Linked DNA regions of Homo sapiens: region 2 is linked to region 1. Evidence: fine-mapped QTL for protein levels in blood plasma. A gene starts in region 1. The other region holds a variant in brackets. All regions are shown on one strand. Distances are between the middles of the regions.

Region 1 (2,911 bases):
TTCTTTGAACACCATATATCTTCCCAATTGGCCTCTTGCCCCATTATGTGTAAAAAACCGACTCTCTTTTCTGCAGAAAGAAATAACAAGGCAAAGGGTGTACAGGGCAACGTTTATATGCATCTACAGCATGCCAGGTGCCTACAGAACCTACCTCGGCCTAGGCGGTCCGTGCCCTAGCCGGGATCTGCAGGCGCCCTCATCCACGCTGGGAGACGGGAAGAGGAGAGGGAGGCGTGACAGGCGAGGGTGCCTGTGCTGCGCAGAAAGCGCTGCCAGGAGAAAAGAAGCAGTGAGCAAGGGCTTCTTCCATTTCAAAAACCTAATAACCAAAACTTGGAGGAATCTGCCTGAGATACTTAAAAAAAAGAGGAAAGAGAAACCTAGGAGGGGGTAAAATGCTTTTAAGACGAATCACTTGTTTTCGTAATAGACCCTGCGCGCGAGTTTCCTAGACTGCCGCGAGAAGAAGGAAAGCGAGGGAGCAGGAAAGGAGAGGCTTCGGAGCCCCTAAACTAACGTCTCTTTTCTTATTAGTAATAGTTTGCTCCAGGGTGAGTCATTTATTATCCTAGCGTTGGCCTCTTTATCAGTAAAGTAGGGGTGAAAATGCATCTTAGCCGGGCTGGCGTTAGGATTCAATGAAGTTAAATGAAGTTAAGCCCCTGGCACCCATGGGATGGCAGCGAGTCTGTTCGTTCCCTGCCTATCCACGCCCGCAGCCAACCCCTCCGACATCTAAGCTACACGGACCAGGGGCAAGAGGCCAGAAAGTGACTTTCAGGGGACACGGGGCACCGGCGTCCCAGCCCCACTGAGCGGACGGAAAATGAAGGTGGAAGGAAGAGGCGCCGCTCCATTCCGGTCCCGGGCGCACCCCGGTTCTGCTTCCTCCTCCGCGGGGGAGCCCAGCCCGCCCGGGGCCACGGGGCACTGGCTGAGAGCCGGCTCCCTCCCACCCATCCTTCTCAGCCTTCCCCCACCGCCGGGCGGCCGAGCAGGGGAACACGAGGGAGAGCCGGTTACCTGGAGTGGGCGTCTGACCCCGGAGTCTCAGGAGGATGCCCAGCCGCTCCTGCTCCACCAAGCTCCCGCCCCGCGCCGCGCTCTAGGCGCTCCGGAGCTGCGCCTGCAGCCCTCACACCAGCGTGGCCCGCCCCGGGGCCGCCCCCAGAGGCCCCGCCTTTCTAGGCCCCGCCCACCACGTCCCCGCCTCGCCCACCTGCGCGAGCTCGGGGCTGGGGACTTGCTGCGGACTCGCGGTTCCCGCCTACAGGCGAGGGCGCCCTCTGGGCACTGACGTGGTCTGGGAGTAGCGCTGCGATCCTAGTGCTTCCTCGCTCCTCTTCCTCACTGTGCTCTGATTCTTAAGAGGTGTGTGAGCGGCGTCTTTTTAAACATTTTATGCCTCCCTTCCTCGAAAGCAGGAAACTCGAGAAATGCTGCCTTTTCTGATTTTAAACATGAAAATATGTTACAGAACAACAATAAAATTAAATTCCAAGGTTCTCGATATGTAAAGTTTAGAGATAACCATGTAGGTGTTTTTTTCTCTCCCCTAACGAACCTTGCTTCCTAAATTTAGCATTTAAGAACTCATTACATTCATGTGTATTTCCACATAAAAATTAAGATCAAATTAAACTGTGGAACAATCCACAGTGCTGTGGAAAGTAGGAAAAAACCTTCCCCGCCCTTATAGCACAGATCTTTGTGTCAGTTATAAAAGTTGACACAGTTCTCTTTGTAACAAGGGGAATATTGTGTCTGTGTCTTCTTTCGTTGGATTTTTAGCTCCTAGAAAACAGAACGAGGTCTTATTTGTTTCCATGTTGTTTAAAAAAAATTCTGGCCGGGCGCGGTGGCTCACGCCTGTAATCCCAGCACTTTGGGAGGCCGAGGCGGGCGGATCACCAGGTCAGGAGATCGAGACCATCCTGGCTAACATGGTGAAACCGCGTCTCTACTAAATATACAAAAAATTAGCCAGGCGTGGTGGCGGGCGCCTGTAGTCCCAGCTACTCGGGAGGCTGAGTCAGGAGAATGGCGTGAACCCGGGAGGCGGAGCTTGCAGTGAGCCGAGATCGTGTCACTGCACTCCAGCCTGGGCAACAGAGCGAGACTCCATCTCAAAAAAAAAAAAAAAAAAAAAAAAATCCAACTCAGAGGCCATTAGACTGTGATATGTTTGACACTTGCCTGATTTGTCAACAAAAATTAACATAAGATGATGGTATAGAGGAAGAAAGACTTCCCCTCTACTCTCTGAGGCTTGGATAACTAAGTCTATGAAATAAATTGACTGCAGGTAGATTAACAAGAGAAAAAGTACACAGATTTCGTGTAGGGGGTATCACAGAAAAGAAAAACTAATATTCCCTCTGCCTCCCCCAACAAAAACTGAGATTTTAGGAGCTTGTGTATCCTCTTCATTGGGGAGGGACAATTTAGGGGAGAGGAAATGATTTTGGGAAAAACTCCTGAACTCCTTCAATGGCTAGCTTTGTTTAATATCTCATGAAATTTTTCATGAGCAATTCAAGCATAATTGTTAAGAGCAAGTAGATTAGGTAAATGTAAATGGAATAAAAGTTTATAAACTTTTAAAAATAATTTGTTTTATAAAATTTGTCTACTTAAAAATAGTTTTAAAAATCTTTTTTGGTGACTTGAAATTTCGAACATATTAAATTAAGTAATAGATATTCATTAAATGTCTGAGTCATTTGTAAGTTAAAATACTGACATGTTAATTGCTAAACATAAGTTTAAAGTATAGCCGGGGCTGGGCACAGTGGCTCATGCCTGTAATTCCAGCACTTTGGGAGGCCGAGGTGGGTGGATCACCTGAAGTCAGGAGTTTGAGTCCAGCCTGGCCAACATACCAAAACCCCGTCTCTACTAAAAATAC
Region 2 (2,911 bases), 44 kb before region 1:
TCAGATTAATTGTATCTTTGATTATTTGTTGCTGTAAGTTTATTCATACCAGAAAAATGGTCACATTTAAAATTCTCAAAATAGTTTTGGCACAGGTCACATCTTCTCATTTTGCTAAGTCCCTGAGCACTTTGAACAGGCTGACTTTATGCATCGGCCTCTTCCCCAGCCACCCTGGTCCCCTCTTTCCACAATGCCTTGCTACCTGCTCTGGCCTCAAGGCTACCTTTACTCCTCCCACTATTAACTCTAGATGAACATTTAATGCTATCACCTTTCTAGCTAACTGTGCTCTGCAGAAACCATGCAGCTTCTCTGACAAGAAGATCTACTAGAGTCCCTGCCCCAAAGAGGACTTCATACCATCTTCCCGATGCTGACAAGGAAGGGGAAACAGATAAGGGTACGTTTTGTGTATCCTTCTTCTTGTTCATAAAATTGCCCGTAATGGTCAGTGTTTTAATGTCTCCAAAGCTTTGTGTCTCAAATGCTCATCCAAACACTGGATGGCAAAGAGGTCAACATCCACGTCAAACTTATTGGCAAACAAGTGGTGTTTGCGCAGCATCCAGTTCAAGTCACCAGCTCCGAAAATGCACACTGAGCGCACATGGACTCCATCGCAGGGCGGGTAGGGAGCACCCTTGGAAACATCACCCTCAAAGTACTGCCACTTGACAAACCTGGCAACTGCTTGCATGTCAGACAGATCATACTTATGGCTGGCAGGGAGTGAGCCCGGGACTTCAGGAATCCTTTGGATGGTGGCCCAGAGATACTCATCAGGGCTGTATGTGTCTTGTGCCCACTCCATCAACTTTTGGATTTTTTCATTCTGTAGTACATACCCCACATACTCCCTACTGACCACGAAGTAGGCACTGCCAGAAAAGAGAGGTGTTTCGAGTGGAGGAAGCATTTTGACAGTCCCTGTGTTTGTCAGCTTTCCATTAACGACCTCATACCGCTTCTTCCACCTTTCTTCTTTATGGGATGGCATCCTCTCCGTTTCCAGGTTGTTTTCTCCCATTAACAACTTGAGCTTCCTGACAATTTCTAGGTTGGTTTTAATGGGAAAATCCATACCACAAAGATTTATCAAGTACTTCCAGTTTGCACTCATTGCATAGAGATCCTTCATGCAGTTGAGGTCAGCCTGAACCCGGCTCCACGATGCATAAACCACACTCTCCAATCGGCTGGCCACAAAGACATTACTAAAACAGGAAGCGATGCCCATCACTGCAGCTAAATAGGAATCCTCG[G/C]ATTTTGTGTCCACATGAATGCAATAGAAATTCTGAGGCATATAGATGGCCCTCAGCAGCCTGTCAAGCATTTCAATCTTGTGATGAACCACTATAGAATATGCTATTGGAAACTCCGCCTCTTCTTTACTAAGGGGTTCTACAATATATTTGCGTCTCTTGATGAAAGAAGAACAGTCACTGGTCATGTTTATATAGTCGTCAGGTGTCCACCGAGGGCGCTTTTTAAATTTCACTGTTAGGATCTCAAGCTTTACCTTTTGGATTTCATTTACATCACCCTGTAAAACTTTGGTGCAATTAATATCACTACTAGGATTCTCCCCAGCAAGCTCCAAGTGTCTGACACTTACAAATTCAGGCTTTTGATGAATCCTTAAAACGGAGAAGGTGATTAGGGATAAAACAAGAACCATAAAGTAGTATTTGGTGGGATAAGAAAAAAGTCTCCTTCGCAGCAACGTCCTCAGCATTTCAAACAATAATCAGGGATTTCCTTTGTGAAGGGCAGTCTTCTATGCTCCAAGCACCAATGATTTTCCCTCCGTCGTGGCCTTGAAGGTTGTCAGTTTGCATTTATCAGAGCTGCAACGGCATCTTGAAATGAAGAGCAGCACTGAAATAAAAGAAGCAATTATAAATATAAATAAATATATATATATATATATATATATACAGAGAGAGAGAGAGAGAGAGAGTTTTTCACAATAAATCTTCTCAGGCTCAAAAAACTGTCCTCTTTGCTATGAGGTTAGGTTTAAAACAAAAACAAAGTGGCTGAATCAGAGGATAAATTGTAGTAGTACAGGAAGCCCACAGTCTCTAGTATTTATACCACAGATTGAAAAAGAAAACAAAAGAAAAAACAAACCCCAAATCCCAGTACATGGATGCACTAGAATATCTAACAACAAGCATTTTACCTCTTTGGTATGTTGAGGTGCAAAACCATAGTTGGACGCCTAGGCAATAATGATTGAACAGTCTATAGTTGATGAGTTTCTGACACTGTGCCAGAATTACCACCCCTTGTTCTTGAAATCGTTAGTAATTTAAGTTCCTCCTGACATGTTTTAATGTCCATTAGCTGGTGTCAGCAGCCCTAAAAGAGATCAGATCCATTCTGCTTTTTGCTGATTTAGGATTTGGGGCATACTTAGGGAGAAGTTTGGAAATGGTTGTGACTTCTAAGAATCTTTGAAGGAAGGGCAAGTCAACAGAATTTTCAAATTGGATTGAAAAGGCTCAGATGAAACAAAGCCCCGTTTGGGACTGTGTTGGGTTAGTCCCACAATGAGTTTAGTTCCATGCCAGAAACTACAAGAAAACAAAGTATTCATAATCCAAAAGAGAGATACAGCTTGCGTTTTCTGCATTAGTTATAACAGACTGTAATAACTAAGTCTTGCAGAAAACAATAGTGTATACAAATTGTAATTTATGACAGACCTTCATCTATATTCAAATTCCAGGAACACAACCCACTTTTACTATATGAAATGCTTACAAACATTAAATAGCTTTGTTTTCAAAAATCAATTTTATAACTTGGCAATTGGTTCTACAGCTGATAAGCGCTGCTGTTCTAAAAAAAGAAAGTCAAGTACTACCAATTTGACCGTTATAAATCTGTTCATAACAAGATT

Direction of the effects. Alleles are on the strand shown, and positions count from the first base shown. The strength of an association depends on the size of the effect and on how common the allele is.
For the plasma level of the protein whose gene starts at base 1,150 in region 1, allele G in region 2 goes with a higher level than allele C (strong association).

The links. PIP is the chance, under the fine-mapping model, that this variant and not a neighbour inherited with it causes the effect. The UK Biobank Pharma Proteomics Project read protein levels with antibody pairs (Olink). The fine-mapping took linkage between variants from a reference panel, not from the people measured, so its PIPs are less certain.
Region 2: its variant is fine-mapped to the plasma level of the GCNT1 protein (UK Biobank, PIP above 0.99). The variant lies in the coding sequence of GCNT1. If it changes the protein, the assay may bind it differently, which can mimic a change of level.

The regions. Positions count from the first base shown.
Region 1 is chr9:76,457,421-76,460,331 of GRCh38, reverse strand. It overlaps GCNT1 (glucosaminyl (N-acetyl) transferase 1), which reads right to left and starts at 1,150. Exons shown (of 4, transcript NM_001490.5): 1 at 1,027-1,150; 2 at 155-272. RefSeq lists an enhancer at 106-215 and a silencer at 826-1,365.
Region 2 is chr9:76,501,209-76,504,119 of GRCh38, reverse strand. GCNT1 (glucosaminyl (N-acetyl) transferase 1) reads right to left here. Exons shown (of 4, transcript NM_001490.5): 4 at 1-1,881. The coding sequence starts at 1,738. The coding sequence ends at 452. Among named protein-coding and RNA genes, the nearest start is that of GCNT1, 43 kb to the right of the region's middle. The variant G/C (reference allele first, on the strand shown) is at 1,266.